Linked DNA regions of Homo sapiens: region 2 is linked to region 1. The links come from fine-mapping of genetic effects on gene expression. A gene starts in region 1. The other region holds a variant in brackets. All regions are shown on one strand. Distances are from middle to middle. Region 1 holds the start of LMF1 (lipase maturation factor 1). Region 2 overlaps LMF1 (lipase maturation factor 1).

The links. PIP is the estimated chance that this variant, and not a neighbour inherited with it, causes the effect.
Region 2: its variant is the best candidate, but not a certain one, in a credible set for the expression of LMF1 in whole blood (INTERVAL, PIP 0.60).

The regions. Positions count from the first base shown.
Region 1 is chr16:964,678-976,347 of GRCh38, forward strand. LMF1 (lipase maturation factor 1) reads right to left here and starts at 6,307. Exons shown (of 11, transcript NM_022773.4): 1 at 6,111-6,307. The coding sequence starts at 6,303. LOC124903620 (a long non-coding RNA gene) reads left to right here and starts at 9,392. Exons shown (of 2, transcript XR_007064935.1): 1 at 9,392-9,934; 2 at 10,664-11,081. CEROX1 (cytoplasmic endogenous regulator of oxidative phosphorylation 1) reads right to left here. Exons shown (of 3, transcript NR_164343.1): 3 at 11,084-11,670. RefSeq lists enhancers at 4,512-5,503, 7,486-8,476 and a silencer at 5,549-6,718.
Region 2 is chr16:855,914-867,583 of GRCh38, forward strand. All of the region lies in intron 10 of LMF1 (lipase maturation factor 1), which reads right to left. Among named protein-coding and RNA genes, the nearest start is that of LMF1-AS1, 59 kb to the right of the region's middle. The variant G/A (reference allele first, on the strand shown) is at 4,711.

The DNA.
Region 1 (11,670 bases):
ATTCTTTTTGGTTTCATTTTCTCCTCAAATTTTCTGAAGAACAGCTGAGAGTTTAGCAAATACGGGTGCAAACGATTCTGCCTGCCACGTCAACCCTGCCTCGGGTGTCATCTGACGAGGATGCCAAGCTACAAGGGCTGCGGTGAGACTCAGAGACACGCTACCAATGGCACCGCGGCCCCACCTCGCCGAAGCAGCTGCCGGGGAGACGCGATAAAACTGCCCCACGCGGAAAAGAAGGAAGGGCGGTGAGCAGGCGCACAGAACAGACGCCACAGTGCGGCACGCATGCCTCCACGCCTAAAGGACAAAACTAGCATGGAGATCCCCTAGAGGTCGGATTTTCAACATAATCTCAGTGAGCCCAGGACTCCAATGTGACAATGTGGAACTGGAAAGACGAGCAAGAAAAGCCCCTCCGTTCCCGCCAGCGTTGGGCATTCCTTCTGCAGTCCAGGCTGTCCCCGTCACTCGGGATCACAGCCAAGCGGTGGGTTCTGTGTGGTGCTTGGCTCCTAGGGCCTCGCGGAAGCCATGTTCTTCTCCATTCAGCTTCATGGAGAGACTTTCCCAGGTTTCAGCCCACGCTACGAAGCTAGACAGGAGAGTGGCCCCCACCCGCCCTGTTTGGAACCCAGCTGGGGCATGCGGTGTTTGGAACACATGGGCAGATTGGGGAGAGGCCAGAAGAGCCTCATCCAGAGCCAAGGACAAGCCTTGAGGCTGAAGAGCTCACCAAGGCCACTACAAGAGAGCAAAAAAAAGAGCCTCAGAGACTCCTCGATAAATAACCAGAACAGAGAGCAAAGGTGGAGAGCAGGAGGGCAAGGCACTGAGACTTTAGAAGCTTCCAGGGAGAAGAAGAGTCAGATGCTTGAAGATGCCTCCTCAATGCTGCAAAGCTCTGAGGGAAAGTGGCTTTGATGGAGAATTAGAGATCCGGGCAAGTTGGTCCTTTCTGGAAAAGCTGCTTGGGGATACACTCCAGCAAAAAGAGAATCCACCAGCAAACAGGAAGGCATGAGCAGCCCAGGAAGTATGAACACAACCAAGGGAGGGCTGTGGCAGTATCTGTCCTGCTGGGCCGCACCTCGGGGCTGGAGGTGGGTAGAGGGGAAAGAAGGGGTAATGGCTGGAAAAGTGTCCCATGCTGACACTAAGCCCTGGTAGAGACCACCTGCTACGGGTCAGCACATTTCACTGAGCAGGAGATGCCCCTAGAAGACAAGGGATAGAGGTATAAAGAAAGTCCTCTCCCTGACTGCAAGGAGCTAGAGGGGAGACAGGCACAAGAACAACACTGGAATGGGGACAATATCAGCCGCAAAGGAAGCAGAGAGCAGGGCTCCGGTGGTCAGCCCTGGGTGGGGTCAGGAGTCCACGAGTGATGAGGGCTAAGTCTGAAGGCCAGAAGGGTGTCGGCAGCCACGGAGAGAACAAGTACAGTTAACCCTGGGAAGGCAGAGGCCAGGTGGTCTCAGGACCACGGTCAGGAAGAGATGCCTCACGTGGCGGGGACACAGCGGGAGCAGTTCAGGCACCACGGCTCGTCCACTGGGGCCCCAGCCTCTCACTGCAAGCAGTGCAGGTGGACATCTGCCCCAGAGGCAGCAGGGAGCGTGTGTCCCAAAGCCCCCAGCACTCATGCCCTGTGCAGGCGCCGAGCAGCCGGCCCTGGCCGGGGCGGTTCCCTCCTAGGCCTGTCCAGGACTCGGCCCCCACAAACACATGGACCGACAGACGAAATCCCTCAGGAGTGTCTCTGCGCCGACGCCATGGCACCCACGAAAAGTGCCACACATAAAGTCAGTCTGCAAATGCCAACGTTACCCAGTCTTCATGTCACATTTCACCTACAGATCCCTTCCGAATTGTAACAATATCTCATAAATGTTTGAGCTTCAAAGGAAAGGTCCTTTCCGACGTTCAGATATATATACTCCGTGGCTGCCTGCGAGCCGTCTCCCAGGCGGGTGTGTCCTTGGTCCGCCTTCTGGGAAGTGTGCACAGGCAAGGAATCCCATGTCAGCCTCAGGACGGCCCAGCGGTCACTCTCACCTCATCAGTGACAGGAAGGTCTTGATGAGCAACTTGGCCAAGGCCACACAGCTAAGGTGTGGCCCACCAACCCTGAGCCCCACTACTTCCACCTGTCACAGCTTCCAGAAAGTTCTCTGCAGTGAACTGCTATCAACCCAATTCTGACCAACTGTAATTACACTGTTTCCAGATAACACCTTAATTCTGAGGCAGTTAAAATGCATTGTGTACATATACTATGTGACTCTCATCAATAGCAAACCAACGTCAGTTCAGTCCAGGAGAACCCACCCAGGGTGGGCAGCTCTAGCCTAGGGTGTCTTCAGTAGCACCTGCAAGGCTGTCCTTCCCCCGTCTTGTCAGGGAATCCAGCTCTACCACTGGCGCTGTAACAGACACAGGGCTGCTGGAAATTCCAGGAGTCCAGCCCCAGCTGCCTGTGGCCGCCCATGGACGGACCTGGCCAGGCCCCCTGGGAGGGGGATTTCAAAGCATCAAGGAGCCGGCCTGGCTGACGAGGCTCCAGACCAGCTGTTTGCCACACACGCCCCCGTACTGCAGGGTTGACCAGTGAGGGCCTCAATCTTCCGCAGGGAACGCCGGGCCACAACGTCGACGCACGACCCTGGGGGTTCCTGCCATAAAACAGTGAGGGATTCTGGCCAGGCTGCTCTGCCCTCTGTTCCGGTGAGCCTGGGCATGGTGCCCACTCTTGGGTTCGGTTTCCTTATTGCGCACACAGACAGCAGCAGGCCTGACTGCAGGAGGCACCGGCACCCATGGGCGGCCGGCACTGCCCCTACACACCAAGAACATGGCACCCAGGTCCCGCTGCTTAGGCCGGAAACTCCTGTCACATAAGCTTTTACTCGTCCAGATTTCAGCCATTCCTGGGAGTGACATCTGTGCTGAGGGGAAGCTCAGTGTCAGTGTCAGGCATCCCCGACCACCTCGGGCAGCCTCGGTCCTCCCAGGAGCCGTCACGGCCCGAGAACGCCGCTGCCCAGATGTGAACCGGGTGTCCAGGATACGCAGGCTGCACAGTGGCGTGAATGAAGGGCAGGGCTGAACTCCAGGGCCTACGGACAATCGCTGCACAGCCGGGCCAGTGGCTGACCCTGCTTCCTCGCTGTCCACTGGGGGTAGTGGCGTTGTCACCAGGAGGTCAGCACCGGGCAGGGTGCTACTTCAGCATCTGCTCAACGCAGTAATCACACTAGGGACCCGAGTCCACACGTCAGGAAGACAGGTGTGTCTTCAACTCTGAGCCCTGTGAAAATGCCGCTTTCCGCTAACACACTCCGGCTCCCACAGCACAGCAGGGCATGCCCGACACCCCAGGACGCCCGCGGTATGCACGTCTGTGTGCAGTGAGCACACCCCTAGCACCTACACACCTCGGTGGCAGCACATGGAAACGCCCAGGCCCGCGGTGGGAAGGAGCCAGCCCCAGGACGGATGCAAAGTCAGGTTGAATGCAGAGGCCTGTCGCTGGCAGCCGGCCTCTCCAGGTCTGGCTTCGAAGCTTCCCCGACAGGGCAGGCGTTTCTGTGTTCTCCTGATCTGTACATCTTTACTACATGTCTGCTGAGACAATCTGCCTAAGGGTAAGCCTCCCTCAGTTCAATGTCTTTTAACAAGGGGAGTTTCCACAGAATACATTTGGTTATGTGTTTAATTACAAGTGTTTCAATAGCTATAAACATTGTAAAATTCAGTATCAAGTGAAATATTTGGAGAGCCCCTATGGCAACTTGGAAAAACCCTGGGATTCTGAGGAACAGGGAGTAGCGCACAGTCCCAGTAAAATCCAGAACTTTCTAGAAGGAGATAAATGCAGGATGACTGCCTGCTTGCCCTGGGCCAGCTCAGCCAGAAAACCATGTCCCTGAAAGATGGGAAACTGGTTCCTTGATACAGCAGAAAAACACTGATTCTACCCCAAATGTACTCACAAGACAGAAGAACGTGCATATGTCAAGGAGAAATGTTCAATGCTGGGCACCAGGCTTAAAATATCCGCTTGACCCAGTGGCTTAAAAGCAGTTCCTTCTGAATTGAACAGAGAATCCCTGCGGAGATCAAAGGAGCCTCAGCTCGTTTGAAAGAGTCTGAGCTGGTTTTATGAAGCTGTGCTCCGGAGGCAAGGCCGCTGGGACTTCCTGCTGTATCTCGGGCTCCCCTGTGGAAGGCCTATTAGAGCCTCACAGCTTCACTTTATCTCTACTTCATCGTTTGCTAAGTGACAGCACCAACATTTAAAATGACTGTTTAATACTGTGGAGGGAAAAGCAACCTGGGAAGAACTACTTTTTAAAATAATTGCAGGCCGGGCATAGTGGCTCACGCTTGTAATCCCAGCACTTTGGGAGGCCCTGAGGTCAGAAGTTCGAGACCAGCCTGGCCAACATGGTGAAACCCTGTCTCTACTAAAAATATTTTTAAAAATTAGTCAGGCATGGTGGTGCGTGCCTATAATCCCAGCTACTCGGAAGGCTGAGGCAGGAGAATCGCTTGAACCCAGGAGACGGAGGTTGCAGTGGGCCGACATGGTGCCGTTGCGCTCCAGCCTGGGCAACAGAGTGAGACTCCGTCTCGAAAAAAATAAATAAATAAAATAAAATAGTTGCTTTAAAGAAAGAGAGAGAGAGACACAGACCCAGTTGAAGCCGATACTGCAATCCCACAGGAAACCTTGTAGTGATGAGCGCGTCTCATCACTTTGCACCAGGAGGTGGAAAGTATCACACAAATGTCACACAAAACGTCGAACTGAGCATCACTCCAGCACAACCAGGCTACCAAACTTCCCGCGACGTGTGTGGCACAAAGGCTGTGCAAAGAAGAACTTCTGCAACCTGACCCTTTCCTTCCACACGTGAGGGAAGCAGACGATGGAAGGAAAGGGAGACGTCCAATGCCCACGGCCTACAACCAACGCGTGGGCAACGCCCGGGGCCAGCAGCTCCGGAGCCCTCTGGGACGGTGACTGCCCACGCGCCCCGCTGGCTGCATCTCGGCCTGGCAGGCTCCCCTCACTTCCATACTCATTTGAGAGCCTCACTTGAGGTTCGTAGCTCCTGACACGTTGGGCTTATGAAACATGTATCCGTGTGATCACATGTCACCGTGATCACAGAACCGTTCTCTTCCAAACCAGTTCTGGGTTGTAGGGACTGGGGAGAGAGGGAGTTGGAATCGCCAGCTGCCCCTGGCCAGGGGATCCAGAGGTTTTGAGCGTGAACTGACTTTTCTCAGAGCTCTGCTCTGTAGGCTGCGCACGCGGGCCCCGCACAGCTGTGGGGTGAAGGGTCTCCGCCAGTGGACCCGGCCAACCACATCCCACAGTGAGGCGCAGGCTTCACTTGCAGATGAGGTTCCGGAGCTGCCCCCAGACCTCCGCTGGGAATCTTCCCGAACGCAGACTGAGCTAGTCGAGAACACTAAAGGAGAAACTCCAGTCTGGCCACCAGCCAGTCACCTTCCCTCAGCCCCTGGGAGACGCGAAGGAGGCTCCCGGGCCGGCTCCTCGGATTTTGGCAGGGGCCGCACGCGGCAGGGATGTGGCGTGCGGGCGTCCAGTTACAGTGGGAACCTTCACCGTCAGCACAGCGCTGTGTCGGGGACAGCAGGAGCGCCTCGCCTCTCCAGGCCGCCCCCCGCCCCGCAGCCAGGACGCAGACCCCCGACCTGCGCACGGACGGGTGACCCTCCACCTGCCCAGCTCTCCTGGGAACTCCTGGGCCAGGGCCCGGGCCGGCCCCGCCTCGCATAGCCCCGAGCCGGTCCTGGCAGGCGCGGCCGTGCAACTTCGGGGCTGCGGGTGGAACCGGGAGCCCAGGAGCCCAGGCCGGAGGCTCGAGGCGGCGACAGGGGTAGGGCCGGGTGCGCTGTCGCCAGCAAGCCTTGTCCTGCCCTGCCCGCCCCGCCTTGCCCGGGCCCCAGCAGGAAGGAGGGCTGCGTGGGGGCGCCGCGGCCGCGAGACCGCGCGGAGGAGTCTCGAGGGAGGGCGGGGGTCGTGGTGCGCGGAGGTGACACTGGCGGATGTCCCGGGCCCGCCCGGCACTCACAGTACACGAAGGCTAGGGCCTTCAGGAGCACGATCCGGGTCAGCCAGAAGGTGCCCGTGTGGAGATGGGCCGGAGAGCCTGCGGGGCCACGCCCCGGCGCGGGCGGCGACTCAGGCTCCGGATCCGAGTACCCAGTCTTCCGCCTCCTCAGCGACTCCGCGGGCGCCGCCATTGTTGGGCTGTCAGGGCGCATGTGCGGGGAGGGCGCACTCCCGGAGGCCCCGCCCATTCTCGGAGGCCCCGCCCATTCTCGGAGGCCCCGCCTCTCCCTGGCCGGCCCTGCCCACGGCCGAAGGCCCCACCCACACCCCGGGAGGCCCCGCTCACAGTCCCGGAGGCACCGCCCCCTCCAGCCGGCCCCGCCCACGCGCGGGAGCGGGTGCCCGGAGCCTGCCTCCTTCGCAGTTCTCGCTGGGCGCTGCTGCGGGTAGGGCGCGGGGCCGGGTACCTGGGAGGTGGTGCGCGTCGCCCGACCCGAGCTCACTGGGGCAGGCACGCGTGCCTTCCGTCAGTCCGAGTTGCAGAGGCCAGGTGCCCTCCCCCAGCCAGGCGCCTTCCCAGCTGTGGTCCTGGGGAAGGTGGGCTGCACAGGCCCTGGCGGTGCTACCACTGCGTGCCCCTGCCTCACAGCTGACACTCACTCTCTGCGGAGGAGGGTGCTAGGGCGATCGTCGCAGCCAGCAAGGGACAGAGTAGGCAGGGCTGTGCCTGGAATGCTCGGGGGACCCTCCCCTTTCTCCCAGCCTGAGCACCCTTCCGCCTTTGCACAACCCAGCTCCTGCCTGCCCTTGGGACTGGACTTCAAGCTGTGGGGGAAGAGGGGGACTCAGGACTCAGGAGGGAAGGGCTAACTGCCCAATGCCCCAAACAGAACATGAAGGAGGACGCCAGCACTCTACACTCTGATGACTGGAGCGGGGTTCTGGAGGCTGATGTGAAGCGGGTGCTAGGAAGGGCTGGGGTCACAGGCATTCCTTAGAGGAAAGAAAGGGCGTGAGGCTAGAGTAGGCATTGGAGACCTAGGGGTTAGTGAATAAACTGTGGGGCACTTAGGTGGAAGTGCAGATTTCTCCTTATTCATTTGTCAGCACTCTTTACGTATGAAAAATCCTGTTCTTTTGTGTATATTGGAAATATTTGTCCTGGTTTTTTGTTTTTGTTTTCATGTATTCTTCTCTTTTGCCTCTCTAGCTTTCCTAGTGTTTTGGCGTATCAATTATCGCCACTGGGTTGGTCAAATGACCCGTCTTTATTGCTTGTTTAATTACCTGTTTAATTATATCTTCACCACCTGCAGTGTGAGCCTTGTGTGGGCAGGGACTGACTGTGGACATCGGGCCCCCAAATCCAGGCCTGACCAGCAGTGGCCCGAGCTTCCTCTCAGCCTCCACCTTCCCTGTGTTGCTGGGGCCGTAGCATACGTGTACATCTTATGGTTTAATTCATTTTTAGTTTCCATTTCTTTTCTATGAAACCCCCCTTAGGAGCCCAGCTGTGAAATGGGACCCTGTTAAAGATGTTGCAACGGGTACGAACACACAAACATCCTCCGCATGCTGGCCCAGCCTCCGGGAGCGTGGTGTGTGCCTGAGGGCTCGGAGCCTTGGGGATCGCAGGAGGCATCGGCCCTGGCTGGCGCCCGGCACCCAAGTCCCTCCACAGAGCCCACGACCCGTACCTCTCCTCGTGACCTGGGGGCCAGCTTAGGAAGGGCCGGCACAGCCCACACTGTTCCCCTCATCTGTGGGGAACAGGGAGCCCCACACCCTGGGACCACGCCTGCAGAGCGGGCCCTGTCTGGGTGCCAGGCCTGCTAGGGGACGGACGGCGAGAGGGACTGCCCTGCGTCAGGTGTGGCCCTGCGCTGTCCTCAGGTGGGGCTGCCCTCACAAGGAGGCTTTGTGCACAGCTTCCCCTCGCTGGGCCGAGCTGCTCTCCCCGCGAAGGGCACAATGGGGCATTGTGCAGAGCAGAAAAGGGCCTCTTGTTCCAGCTTCCAGCGCTCCGGGCTCCGGCTCTGCATTTGCCCAGGGTGGGAGCAGTCAGCGGAAGGGTCTGCTGGGAGCTCCTGTTCTCTCTGAGCTCAAGTTTCCCTCAGGGTCTGCTCTCTTGAGACGCTGACCGCAGGGGTCCCATCCACTGCCCAGAATGGCTCCAGAGCAGGTCACCGGGGGCAGGGCTTGGGCCGGGGAGAGGTGGACCAGCAGCTCTGGTCGTGCCCATTTCAGCCTGAATTTAATCAAAAGTGCACTGGGTTATGATTCAGCCATCAAAAAGAATCCAGGAGCCGGGCGCCTGTCATCCCAGCACTTTGGGAGGCCGAGGCAGGTGGATCACCTGAGGTCAGGAGTTCAAGACCAGCCTGGCCAACATGGTGAAACCCCGCCTCTACTAAAAATACAAAAAAATTAGCCAGGTGTGGTGGCGGGCACCTGTAATCCCAGCTACTCGGGAGACTGTGACAGGAGAATCGCTTGAACCCGGGAGGTGGAGGTTGCAGTGAGCCTAGATCGCGCCACTGCACTCCAGCCTGGGCCACAGAGCGAGACTCTGTCTCACTAAAATAAAACATAAAATAAAAAGGAATCCAGTTCTGACACGTGCTACAACACAGATGAACCTCAGAACATCAAGCTCAGTGGGACAGGACAGACGCGGAGGTCATGAGTTGCGTGAGCCCATTTACATGAAATGTCCGGGGTGGGCAAAGCCACGGGGAAAGGAGGGAGCTCTGTGGTCCAGGTCTGGGGACGGGGAGTGGGGAGCCAGTGGTCCGGGGGTAGGACGTTTTCTTTTGGGCTGATGAGAATCTTCTGGAACTAGGCGATGGCTGCCCAGCACTGTGAGGTGCTAAACACCGAGTCGTTCACTGGCAAATGGCTTATTTCATGCTATGTGAATTTCGCCTCGAATTTTAGAAAAGTAAAATGAGGCCGGGCACCGGGGCTCACGCCTGTAATCCCAGCACTTTGGGAGGCCGAGGCGGGTGGATCACGAGGTCAGGAGATCGAGACCATCCTGGCTAACACGGTGAAACCCCGTCTCTACTAAAAATACAACAACAACAACAAAATTAGCCGGGCATGGTGGCGGGCGCCTGTAGTCCCAGCTACTCGGGAGGCTGAGGCAGGAGAATGACGTGAACGCGGGGGCTGGAGCTTGCAGTGAGCCGAGATCGTGCCACTGCCCTCCAGCCTGGGCGACAGAGCGAGACTCTGTCTCAAAAAAAAAAAAAAAAAGTAAAATGAAAACAAAAGACAACAGACAGCCCTGCACTGGTGTTTCAGAATCGCCCGGAAGGCGCTGTCACCTGTCGGAATACATCATGTCATTTACGCTCACCTTACTTCTTTGTCTATATTAAGGCGCATCTAGCAGTTTAAAAATAACATTTAGATACAGGTGTGTCTTATTCTCTAAGAAGGCACTTCACTTAAAAACAGGCTTCTCTGCAAACCCAGAGTGAGCTGCAGCGGCCGGGAGATCGGCCAGGTGTGGTCCTTTCACCCTGCAGCTCAGTGTCCTGTGACCACAGGCACGTGGGCCCTGCCCTGAGCGCCTCACACCAACCCGAGGCGGGAGGAGGAGGAGGGCGTCCTGAGAGTGCCCTGTCAAGCAAAAACTCTAAGAGAAAAAGCCAGGCTGACCCAGGAGAGGCCTGAGGGAGGGGAGTGGAGATGAGGCTCGGCCACCCCAGGGCTGCCCGGTGCTGGGGGAGAAGACGCTGAGAAGAGGAGGAGAATGGGGAGGAAGGGACGGACACCCCAAGAGCACGCAGGCTGAAGACTGGGCTGCCTCCCCGGAGACCGACCAGCCTGCCCTAGGTGGGACCCTGTCCCCGCCGTCCCGGCCTGCGCCAGCACAGCCCCCAGGACCCAGGCACACACAAGCCCGTGGCTGGCCACGCTCCCAGCAGCTGCGGGCCGGCTTCAGGGAGGAATGAGCCCCTGTCGGCACCTCGTCCAGCTGTCCCCCAGCACCCCGGCCTGGCAGCTCCCGCCTCCTCGGGGCCATTGTCCCTGGCATGCGGTGGCAGCTGTCTCTGGCACCCGCAGGAAGCCAGTGTGGGCCCGAAGATAATCGTGCACCCTTCATTTACCCCAATTTTTCATGTCCTGAAGTCTGGGTATGGAAGGGGGGCCCAGGACCCGTGGATGCTAACATCTGTTGCCTCCTCCTGGAAGGGTGGTCAGTTTGGGCAGATCCTGCTGTGACTGTCCAGCGGCCAACCCCCCCACCCCCCACGTGAGGCTGGCAGGTGCGGGTGGGGGCTGAGAGAGCAGGTGTTGTGCCATTTGCTGGTTGTCCTGGGACGATGACTCACAGACGGCTGTTCTGCTTGGCTCACCCTGTCCTCTCCCTGCACCCTCGGCTACAGGTCACGAGTGTTCCCACCCCTGCACCCCAGAAGGAGATGCGGCTCCATGTGACCCTGCAAGCTGGCAAGCCATGGTTTCTAGACAGTGGAAAGCACAGCTCCCAATGTGGTGGTGTTCTCCGGTTGCAGGGCCCTATGTTAGGAAACGAATGTGTAATTTTTTTTTTTTCTCTAGGAATCATATTCTGCACTGGAAGAAGCCTTGAGAGTTGCCTGGCCCAGAGGTCACAAACCAGAGCCCTGCGGGCTGAGCTCTACCCACAGTGCAGTTATCAGTCACCGTGTAGCGGTCACCGACGGCCACATTAATGCTGCGTAACAAACAGCCTCAGAGCCCACCGTTGTGTGTCGCCAGGCGGTGCTGTCCATGCCCAGGCCCCAAGAAAGGCAGGGGAAAGGCTGAGCTGGGCCTGTGCCCTCTGTCCCTTCCTATGAGCCTCTAGAGCAAAGCTTTGCTGAAGGCTGTTGTCTGAACCAAGGCCACAGAGGAAGCACGCTCCCTGCTCCCACTTTGCCCCTCGTACCCGCCTGAGGGCATCTTAATTAAGCCTTCCTTCCCCACGCTCAGAAAAATAAATACTTGGGAGACAGCAGAGACATTTTCACAGGGTGTGTTTTCATTTGCCTTTGGCACTAATGGGTCTCTGGAACGTTCCATCCTGGCCGGGGAGGTCAGGGCCTGGGCGGCCAGGGCCCATTTCGAGAAAGCAGGTTTTCCTTTGTGGCATGCTTATTTCAAGCACCATTTTCCCTCCTGGTTATACTTGAAATGGGGCTCGGTGTTGGGAGGTTTCAAATGTGGACATTCCGGGCAAGGGGCCTCATGAACTCTGTGGACATTCTGGGCAAGGGGCCTCATGAACTCTGAAGGTTGAGCTTGGAAGGACGGACACAGGTCTTGGCAGCCTGAGTGGGTACAAACGCTGATTTTTCTGGAGTCAGTCCTCTCCTGCTGATGGGCTGAGAGAGCCCCCCAGGCCCTGTGTCCCTTCTCAGAGGACCTCAGCCCCCCAGTGCCTGGGCCACGGATGGGCTGGGGGCTGGGGCCCAGGGCCTCGCATCCTACAAGGGCCCAAGGGCTGAAATGGGGCTGGGGTCCCTGGATCTAGGGGATGAGGGCCCAGAACGAGGCTGGGGTCTGGGGTTCAGTGGAGCAATGACCAGGAATCAGGCTGCGATCTG
Region 2 (11,670 bases), 110 kb before region 1:
GTCCACCCGGCTCCTCCTGGCTTTGAGTCTCTTTGGGTCTGGGTGTGTGATGGATGATGATTCTTCTCTCCCCAAGTCTGAATTACGCCAGGAAAACCGGGAAGACAGAGACCCTCTGGGTGGAGGAGGGTCCCTGAGGCGCCTGATGGGAGAGAGGGATCAGCAGCTCCAAGAGGAGTGGGGTCGGGCCTTTGGAAAACCTCCCGGGCAGCCAAGACTGAGGGTGATGCTGGCAGTTGGTGGCTCCCGTCCACTCCAGGAGGGCACTGCCCACTGCCCTGGGCCCCAGGGGTCTTTCCTGGACCCCTTGGGCCTGAGGCTGCCATGGTTTTCCTTGGCTATAAGGACGGCAGCGGCCAGCATGGGGACTGAGGCCAGGTGGTGCCAGGCAGAGAAGTCACACTGGACCCCGAGGTCGACCTCTGAGCAGCTCAGCAGCAGACTGAAGGGACGGGCTGGAATGCGGCCGTGAGGGCGCTGGGCTGTGCGGGCAGCATGGTCCCTGCACACTCTCCTGGGCCTTGCTAGGGCAATGCAGTCCCCAGGCAGGCCCACCCTCTCCCAAACCCTGCATTTAGTGAGGCCGGGAGGGTGGGGATCCTGGGAAGGCCTCCTGCAGTGGGATTGCCCATCTTTCCCAAATTCCTGCTCTTGCTTTCTGCTCCTTCCCAGGACAGGGTCAAGGCCTAGGGGGCCCAGGGCCTGGTCTCTGACATCAAGAGCTGGAACTGCAGTTTGGAAAGGGTTTTGGAAAGGGTCAGAACCCTCTGTGCCAACTGGCAGGTTGGTGGGAAGGGGCCCCAGGCCCCAGCGGCCTGAAGGGTTGCATTTCATTCCTGCAGACAAAGTACCCGAGAAGGCCATGGCACCGCCCCGGAGGGCTTGAGAGTGTTGAAAATAGGGGATCTCCCAGCCCTTTTGAAATAGACCCTACTGGCAACAGCTGGGCATCTTGCACAGCTATAGTAGGGATTGCAGCCAGGGCCTGACACTGAGGCCACAGACACGGGTCCCATCCACGCCCGGACCCCCGTGTCCTTCCACACCCTCCCCGACCTTCGGCCTCCTTGTGTGATTTCAAGAACGTATGATTTCAAGAATGAGTGGAACCCTGCGGCACGTACCCGCGGGGCAGGCGATTCTCACGCCAATTCTCAGGTTCCGCCAGGTCGTGTGATGGAGGCTTCCTTCCTCCTCGTCGCTGACCGGCGTCTGCGGCGTGAGTGCACCCTAGTTTGTGCGGTCGCTCTCTTGTGGAAGGACAGCTGAGCTCTTTGCAGTTTTTGTCTGTGACGGCTGCCGTAAACCTCTGCACGGGTTTCTGCGTGAACCTGGGTTTCAACTCTCTGGCTTAAACGTCCATGGAAGCAGCTGCTGAGTCCACTGCAACTTCGGGTGTCCTTTTTGAGGAGCCATTTTACCCTCCCAGCAACAGCCGAGTGACTCGATTTCTTGGTATCTTTGCCAGCATGTGGGGTTGTTGCTACTTTTATTCCAGCCGTTTTGATGGGTGTGCAGTGGTGTCACGGGACGGGTGTGAGTGGTGTCTCGGGACGGGTGTGAGTGGTGTCACCGGACGGGTGTGAGTGGTGTCTCGGGACGGGTGTGAGTGGTGTCACGGGACGGGTGTGAGTGGTGTCACGGGACGGGTGTGAGTGGTGTCTCGGGACGGGTGTGAGTGGTGTCACGGGACGGGTGTGAGTGATGTCACGGGACGGGTGTGAGTGGTGTCACGGGACGGGTGTGAGTGGTGTCACGGGACGGGTGTGAGTGGTGTCTCGGGACGGGTGTGCGTGGTGTCTCGGGACGGGTGTGCGTGGTGTCTCGGGACGGGTGTGCAGTGGTGTCTCGGGACGGGTGTGCGTGGTGTCTCGGGATGGGTGTGCGTGGTGTCTCGGGATGGGTGTGAGTGGTGTCTCGGGATGGGTGTGAGTGGTGTCTCGGGATGGGTGTGCGTGGTGTCACGGGATGGGTGTGCAGTGGTGTCTCGGGATGGGTGTGCGTGGTGTCTCGGGATGGGTGTGCGTGGTGTCTCGGGATGGGTGTGCGTGGTGTCTCGGGATGGGTGTGCGTGGTGTCTCGGGATGGGTGTGAGTGGTGTCTCGGGATGGGTGTGAGTGGTGTCTCGGGATGGGTGTGCAGTGGTGTCTCGGGATGGGTGTGAGTGGTGTCTCGGGATGGGTGTGAGTGGTGTCTCGGGATGGGTGTGAGTGGTGTCACGGGATGGGTGTGAGTGGTGTCTCGGGATGGGTGTGCGTGGTGTCACGGGATGGGTGTGAGTGGTGTCTCGGGATGGGTGTGCGTGGTGTCACGGGATGGGTGTGAGTGGTGTCACGGGATGGGTGTGCAGTGGTGTCTCGGGATGGGTGTGCAGTGGTGTCTCGGGATGGGTGTGCAGTGGTGTCTCGGGATGGGTGTGAGTGGTGTCTCGGGACGGGTGTGCAGTGGTGTCTCGGGACGGGTGTGAGTGGTGTCTCGGGACGGGTGTGAGTGGTGTCACGGGACGGGTGTGAGTGGTGTCACGGGACGGGTGTGAGTGGTGACTCGGGACGGGTGTGCAGTGGTGACTCGGGACGGGTGTGCGTGGTGTCTCGGGACGGGTGTGCAGTGGTGTCTCGGGACGGGTGTGCAGTGGTGTCTCGGGACGGGTGTGAGTGGTGTCTCGGGACGGGTGTGAGTGGTGTCTCGGGACGGGTGTGCAGTGGTGTCTCGGGACGGGTGTGCAGTGGTGTCTCGGGACGGGTGTGAGTGGTGTCACGGGACGGGTGTGAGTGGTGTCACGGGACGGGTGTGAGTGGTGTCTCGGGACGGGTGTGAGTGGTGTCTCGGGACGGGTGTGACTGGTGTCACGGGACGGGTGTGCAGTGGTGTCACGGGACGGGTGTGAGTGGTGTCTCGGGACGGGTGTGAGTGGTGTCACGGGACGGGTGTGAGTGGTGTCACGGGACGGGTGTGAGTGGTGTCTCGGGACGGGTGTGCAGTGGTGTCTCGGGACGGGTGTGCAGTGGTGTCACGGGACGGGTGTGCAGTGGTGTCACGGGACGGGTGTGCAGTGGTGTCACGGGACGGGTGTGCAGTGGTGTCACGGGACGCGTGTGCAGTGGTGTCACGGGACGGGTGTGAGTGATGTCACGGGACGGGTGTGAGTGGTGTCACGGGACGGGTGTGAGTGGTGTCTCGGGACGGGTGTGCAGTGATGTCTCGGGACGGGTGTGCACTGATGTCACGGGACGGGTGTGCAGTGGTGTCTCGGGACGGGTGTGAGTGGTGTCTCGGGACGGGTGTGAGTGGTGTCTCGGGACGGGTGTGCAGTGGTGTCACGGGACGGGTGTGCAGTGGTGTCACGGGACGGGTGTGAGTGGTGTCTCGGGACGGGTGTGAGTGGTGTCTCGGGACGGGTGTGCAGTGTTGTCACGGGACGGGTGTGCAGTGGTGTCTCGGGACGGGTGTGCAGTGGTGTCTCGGGATGGGTGTGCAGTGGTGTCTCGGGAGGGGTGTGCAGTGGTGTCTCGGGACGGGTGTGAGTGGTGTCACGGGACGGGTGTGAGTGGTGTCTCGGGACGGGTGTGAGTGGTGTCTCGGGACGGGTGTGCAGTGTTGTCACGGGACGGGTGTGAGTGGTGTCTCGGGACGGGTGTGCAGTGATGTCACGGGACGGGTGTGCAGTGGTGTCTCGGGACGGGTGTGCAGTGGTGTCTCGGGACGGGTGTGCAGTGGTGTCTCGGGACGGGTGTGCGTGGTGTCTCGGGACGGGTGTGCAGTGGTGTCTCGGGACGGGTGTGCAGTGGTGTCTCGGGACGGGTGTGCAGTGGTGTCTCGGGACGGGTGTGCAGTGGTGTCTCGGGATGGGTGTGAGTGGTGTCTCGGGATGGGTGTGCAGTGATGTCACGAGATGGGTGTGAGTGGTGTCTCGGGATGGGTGTGAGTGGTGTCACGGGATGGGTGTGCAGTGGTGTCTCGGGATGGGTGTGAGTGGTGTCTCGGGATGGGTGTGCAGTGGTGTCACGGGATCGGTGTGAGTGGTGTCACGGGATGGGTGTGCAGTGATGGTACCGGATGGGTGTGCAGTGGTGTTATGGTGGTTTTTGCTTCTCTAATGACAGGCATTTCTCCTGAGCTTATCTGTCATCTGTGCACCTTCTTTGGTGAAACGTCTCTGTGCTCATTTTCTAATAAGATTATTTTAGTATTAAGTTATGAAACTTCTTTACATATTCCAGATTTTAGACTATTGTCAGATACGTGACTTGCAAATATTTTCTGTCTGTAGCTTAAAAATTATCTTTGTTCTCTTAACAGGTCTTTTTATGGAGCAAATGCTTTTAATTTTAATGAATTTCAATTAATTTTTCCTTTCACAGATCATCTTTAAGTATAATGACTCTGCCTGGCCCTAGATCCCAAAGATTTTCTTCTATTTTTTCCTGAAAGTTTTTTTTTTTTTGAGATGGGCTCTCGCTCTGTTGCCCAGGCTGGAGTGTGGTGGTGTGATCTCGGCTCACTGCAACCTCTGCCTCCCAGGCTCAAGTGATCCTCCCACCTCAGCCTCCCGAGTAGCTGGGACTACAGGCATGTGCCACCAGGCCCTGCTAATTTTTTGTGTTTTTAGTAGAGACGGGGTTTTGCCACGTTGCTCAGGCTGGTCTCAAACTCCTGAGGTCAAGCAATCTGCCCACCTTGGCCTCCCAAAGTGCTGGGATTACAGATGTG[G/A]GCCACCATGCCTGGCCCTGAAAGTTGATTGTCTTATGCTTTACGTTGAAGTCCAGGATCCGTTTTGAGTTATTTTTGTGTGGGGTGAGACGTGGGTCGAAGATTTTGTTTTTGTCCATGGAATTGCTTTTGCGCTTTTGTAAAAAAAACTCATCCGGGCATGTTTGTTTGGGTCTCTTTGTGGGTTCTCTGTTGTGTTCCATGGAATTGCATGTCTGTCCCTCTGTCAATACTACACTGTGTTGACTACTGTAGTTCTGTGTCTTGAAACTGGGTAGATTGATTCGTTCCACCTTGTTCTCTTTCAAAATGGTTTTAGCTATTTTTGCTCCTTTACATTTCCATAGAAAACTTGGGATGACTTGTCCTTACCTATTAACACATCTTGCTGGGTTTTTTTTTTAATAGGAATTGCATTAAACCTGTCCATCAATCTGGAAGGACCTGTCATCTCCACGTTGTTGTATCTTCCAACCCACGAACGCGGCCGTGTCTCTAGGTGTGTGCTGACGTCTTTCAGCAGCATTGCTGAGTTTTCAGCATGTAAGTTCTGTGCATGTTTTGTCAGGTTTATACCTAAGTATTTCGCTTTTTGGAGTGGTTTTAAGTGGTTCTGCGTATTTAATTTAGGTGTCTGTGTGTTCATTGCTAGCGTACAGGAATACTATTGAATCATTTAGGTTGATCTTGTGTCTTCTGACTTTGCTGAACTCACTTATTAATTTTCTTTCTTTTTTTTTTTTTTTTTTTTTGAGATGGAGTTTCACTCTGTCGCCCAGGCTGGAGTGCAGTGACGCAATCTCAGCTCACTGTAACCTCTGCCTCCCCGGTACAAGCAATTCTCCTACCTCAGCCTCCTGAGTAGCTGGGATTACAGGCATGCGTCACCACACCTGGCTAATTTGAATTTTTTTTTAGTAGAGACAGGGTTTCTCTATGTTAGGCTGGTCTTGAACTCCCGACCTCAGGTGACTGGCCTGCCTTGGCCTCCCACAGTGCTGGGATTGCAGGTGTGAGCCGCTGCGCCCGGCCTCGCTTCATAATTCTAGGAGTGTTTTTGGTGGATACCTTGGGATTTCCTACAAAGACAACGGCGTCATCTGTAAACAGGCAGTTTCGTTTCTTCCTTTGTGATCGACACGCCTTTTCTTTCCTTGTCCTGCGTACTGCAGTGCCCAGCGCTTCCAGCACCATGCCGGATCCGATGGTTAGAGCAGACGTCCTTTCTTGTTCCGGATCTGAATGGTGAAGGGTGATTCCTTGCCCTCGAGGAGAATGCTGGCTGCAGGGCTTGTACAGATGCTCTTTATCCAGCGGAGGAAGTTCCTCTCCTTCTCTGTTTTTCCAAGTTTAAATCATGAATAGATGTTAAACTTGTCACGGGCCTTCCCAACACTGACAGATGTGATCGTGTGAGTTATCTTCGGTAGCTGGTAACGTGTGGATCTCATCGACTGATTCTCAAATACGGAACCAACCTTCATCCCTGGAATAATCCCTACTTGGTCATGGCATAGAATTCTTTGTTATATATTGGCAAATTCTATTTAGTAATTTTTTTTTTTTTTTTGAGGCAGAGTCTCACTCTGTTGCCGAGGCTGGAGTGCAGTGGCACCATCTCTGCTTACTGCAACCTCCACCTGCCGAGTAGTTGGGATTATAGGCAGCCACCACCATGCCCAGCTAATTTTTGTATTTTTAGCAAAGATGGGGTTTCACCATGTTGGCCAGGCTGGTCTTGAACTCCTGACCTCAGGTGATCTGCTCGCCTCGGCCTCCCAAAGTGTTGGGATTACAAGTGTGAGCCATTGTGCCCAGTCTATTTAGTAATATTTTGTTAAAAAATTTTGTGTCTATATCACTGAGGGATATTGGCTTGTAATATTATTTTCTTGTATTATCTTTGTGTGGTTTTGGTATCAGAGAACCACTAGCTTCATAAAATAAATTGAGGCTGGGTACAGTGGCTCATGCTTGTAATCCCAGCACTTTGGGAGGCTGAGGTGGGAGGACTGCCTGAGCCCAGGAGTTTGGGACCAGCCAGGGCACCATGGCAAGATCCTGTCTCTACAAAAACTAAAAAAATTAGTGAGGCGTGGTGGTGTGGGCCTGTGGTCCCAGCTACCTGGGAGGCTGAGGCGGGAGGATAATTTGAGCTGAGGAGGTCGAGGCTACAGTGAGCCATGTTTGTGCCATTGCACTCCAGCCTGGGTGACAGAGAGTGAGAACCTGTCTCAAAAAATAAATAAATAAATAAATAAAACGTAAATTGATGCTTTTCCTTCTCTTCTATTTTCTGGGAAATTAATCTTAGAATTCTCCAGTGAAACCATCTGAGCCTGGATATTTCTTTTTGGAGTTTAAAATGACAAATTCAATTTCTAGTTATAGGGCTATTTAAATTATTATTTCATACCAGGTGAGTTGTGGTAGTTTGTGTTTTTTGAGGAATTGGTCTATTTCATCCAAGTTATAAAATTTATGTATGTAGATGTTTGTCGTAGTCGCTTATTATCCTTTTCAGATTGCAGGGTCTGTAGTGATATCTCTTTTTCGTTTCGAGACAGAATCTTGTGGTGTCGCCCAGGCTGGAGTGCAGTGCTGCAGTCTCGGCTCGAGCAATTCTCGTGTTTCAGCCTCCCAAGTAGCTGGGACTACAGGCACCTGCCACCACGCCCAGCCAAGTTTTTGTATTTTTAGTAGAGACCGGGTTTCACCATGTTGGCCATGCTGGTCTTGAATTCCTGAGTTCAGGTGATCCACCCGCCTTGGCCTCCCAAAGTGCGGTGATTTCAGGCATGAGCCACCACACCCAACCTCTTTTTTCATCTTTGATATTGGCAATCGTATCTTCTCCTTTTGTTATTCTTACTAGAGGGTTGCTGATTTTATTGGTCTTTTAAAAGAACCATCTCTTTGTTTCAATAAGTTTCTCTATTGTTTGTTTTCAGTTTCATTTTCTGCTTTTTACTATTTTCTTACTGCTCCTTGCTTTAAATTTTTTCCTAGTTATTCATGTGATCTTGAGCTAGATTATTATTATTTTTTAAGCGATGGGGTCTTCCTGTGCTGCCTGATGCCAAGAGGCTGGCGTTAACGTCCTGGGTTCACACAGTCCTCCCACCTCAGCCTCCTGAGTAGCTGGGACTACAGGTGCTTCCACGGCATCCAGCTGATGTCAGATTATTGATTTGAGATCCTTCCTCTTTCTAAAATCTCAGGTCTCTTTTCTAATGTATGCATTTGGTGCTTTCTCTCTCATCACTAGTTTAACTACATCCCAGAAAATGTGACATGTCATTCAGTGCAATGGGTGGCATATTCTATAAACATCATTAGGCCCTGCCTGTCGATGATGGTGCTCCTTTATGTTCTTGCTGAATTTCCATCTAGTTATTCTACCTATTGTTGAAAGAAGGGTGTTGAAACATCCAGCCGTAATTGTTGATTTGTCGAGCTCTCCTTTCAGTTCTTTTTCTTCACATGTTTTGCAGATCTGTGCTTAGTGCACACACTTAGGATTGCTACATCTGTTTGGCAGGTTGATTCTTTTCTCATTGTCCGTCTTTGTCTCCAATAATTTTTGCACTGAGGTCTACTTTGAGGTTAATACAATGAATCCTTTATTTTCATTAATAGTCACATATTTTTTTCTATCCTTTTACTTTCAACCTGCCTATACAGAGGGTCCCTAACTTATGAGAGTTCCACTGACAGTTTTTCAGCTTTACAATGGTGCGAGGGATACGCACTCGGTAGGAACCGCACTGTGAGTGCCCAGACAACTATCCTGTTTTCACTTCCATACAGTATTCAGTAAATGACATATTCAACACTGTATTACAAAACAGGCCTGTGCTAGGTGATTTTGCCCAGTGTAGTCTAATGTAAGTGTTCTGAGCACGTTTAAGGTAGTAGGCTAGGCTGAGCTACGACGGATGTTTGGTAGGTGTATTAAACTCATTTTTGACTTACATTTTCAACTTATGCTGCATTTATCAGGGCATAAGCTCATTATGCATATATTTAAGTTACTATCTTTTTTTTTTTTTTTTGAGATAGGGTCTTGTGTCGCACAGGCTGGAGTGCAGTGGCATGTCTTGGGTCACTGTAGCCTCAGCTTCCCGAGTAGCTGGGATTACAGGCATGCACCACCATGCCTGGCTAATTGTTGTATTTTTAGTAAAGAGGGTTTTGCCATGATGGCCAGGCTGATTTTGAACTCCTGACTTCAAGTGATACACCTGCCTCAGCTCCCAAAGTGCTGACATTACAGGAGTGAGCCACTGCACCTGGCCAATCTTTATCTCTTAATTGGCTTATTTAGACCATTTACATTGAATATACAGTCGGTCATTTTACTTCTTCCCATCTGTTCTGTTTCTGATTTCTTTGTTTTTCCCAACCTGCTTTCCTATGGGTTATGTAAGTGTTTTAGAATTCCATTTTGATTTGTCAATAGTGTGTTCCAATGTATCTCTTAGTATAGGTTGTTTTTTACTGGCTGTTCTTGGCACGTAACTTACAGTCTACTGATGTCATTTTACCACTTCAAGTTAAGCATAGAAACCTCACCTCTATGTCCATTTGCCCTCATCCATTTATAGTTATCTTAACTACTTCCTCTACATAAACTTTGAACTACTTCAGACAGTTTTATAGCCTTTGCTTAACCATCCAACATGATTGGAACTCAAGAGAAGGAACGTCTATTGTATTTACCCATGTCTTTTCTTTTTTCTTTTGAGATTGAGTCTCGCTCTGTTGCCCAGGCTGGAGGGCAACGGTGTGATCTCGGCTCACTGCAACCTCTGCCTCCCAGGTTCAAGCAATTCTCCTGCTCAGCTTCCTGAGTAGCTGGGATTACAGGCGTGTGGCACCATACTCGCTCATTTTTTATTTTTGTAGAGACGAGACTTCACCATGTTGGCCAGGCTGGCAATGTTTTATTATCTCTGGTTTTTAGAAATTTGACTTTGATGTGTTTAGGTTTGAATTTCTTTGGGTTTTTCCTATTTAGGGTTTGCTCAGTTTATTGACTCGGTAGGTTTGTCCGTTTTGCCAAATTTGGGAAGTTTTCAGTTCTTATTTCTCCAAGTACATTTTCAGCCCTAAAGCTCACTCTGTCTTCCTCCTAGGACTCTGATGACATGAATTCTGGATCTTCTGTTACAGTCTCAGTCCCACAGATCCCTGGGGCTCTTGCTGTTTTTCCCCGTCTATGTCCTCTCACTTGTTCCCACTGGGTACTTTCTATGTTTAAGTTTATTGATTCTTTCCTCTGTCCTCACCATTCAGATGTCGAGTGTTTTGTGTCAGTTATATTTTTCACTTCTAAACTTTTCATTTGGTTCTTTAAAAAACCGATTTCTTTGCTGAGGCTGTATTTTTTATCAGTTGTGTTCATAATTACTGCATGCGTTTTCGACGGCTGCATTCACATCTCTGTGAAGTCACTCTAATACCTCCCTCATCTTGGTGCTATCATCTGTCGACTGTCCTTTTTCACCAATGTCTTCCTGTTTCCTGCTGTGACAAGTAATTTTTCCACTGAAAACTGAACATTTTGTGTATTAGGAGATTTTGGATCTTATTTAAACCTTCTGCTTTAGATGACTTCTTCTGACCTCATGCTGGTAGAGACAGGGGTATTACCTTGCTCCTGCCAGGTTGGGGTAGAACTCCAGTGGACGCATTGGGAGTATTCCTTGTTGTTTCTGGGTAGGGTGGGAGTCGTGGCTCTGCACTAGGCCTCCATGACACTATGGCGGGGGTGGCCTAGTCATTGCTGGCTGGGTGGTGGTGAAGGTCCTGACTTTCTGGTAGCTATTACGTAATACCACTCTGGAGGGGAGGAGCCCTTCAGTACTGCCAGGGGTTGGGGGAGTCCAGGCTCCTCGTGTGGTCTCCACTGATACCACAGAAGCGGGGGATCCTTCCTGCCCACTTGGATGAAAATCTCAGCTTCCTATTTGGCCTCCTCTGGTAGCATCCCAGTGAGCCGTTTGGAGGAGAGTCCAGGCTCCCTACTCCATACCTTGCTGGTGTGGGTGGGGCCATGGTTTTTTCTGTGGTGTTGCCTGGAGTGGTGATTATTTTATGTAAATTTCCTGTCTTGCTAGGCTGCTCTTTTCTGGCCCTTTAGTCAGAGAGAGCAGATTTTTGTTGAGGTGTTTCTTGTCTGCATCTGCTGGCATTACTGGGTTTCCAGTTTCCTCACCCCCAAGTCTAGAAAATGAGGCCGAAAGCAAGCCTAGGCGATCACCACCATTTTGGGGCTGTGGCTCCGTCCCGAGGGCCCTGCTGGTGGCTCTCTTCTCTCACCTTCGGTCTTCCTGTTTTATGTATAACGTCCAGGGATCTTGGTTGCACTTAGTGGGAGGAACAGGGGTAAGTGTCTGTTCCATCTTCCAGTTTTAAAGTCGATGATGAACTCAATGCAGGCCCACGGTTAGCCACAGCCTGTCATGGTACCACCTGCTCCAGCTGCCAAACATGTGTATCATGGAGACGGGAGAGATGTGCCGTGTGGCAGTGTTCAATAATGTTTTCCCTAAATGTTAACTCATTACTGGTTCACATAAAATAGTTACTGCTTTTCACACTTGGTTTTCACAGTATCCATCCTTTCAGGTAGACTTTGGGACTCATGGATGGACCTGAAGCTGCTCTGACATGATTACTTTTTCCAGCACCTCCTGGCTGAGAAACAGATGATCCGACTGTGTGCTTGGCCAGAAGAGGCTTCCGTCACGACCTGACGATGGCAAACCTTCCTCTGGGCCAGCTCCAGGGTCCCCAGGCACCGAGGAGGCTGCGATCTGGGGTGGGGGCTGGGGGGCTCTGAAGGCTGCTGAGACGGGGCAGTAACAGAGAAGACCCGTATTGAGCCTCGAAGGACGAGCTCTGGGGCCTGGTCCCCAGTGAGCCAGGGGAACGGCCGCCTGTCCGGGCTCCAAG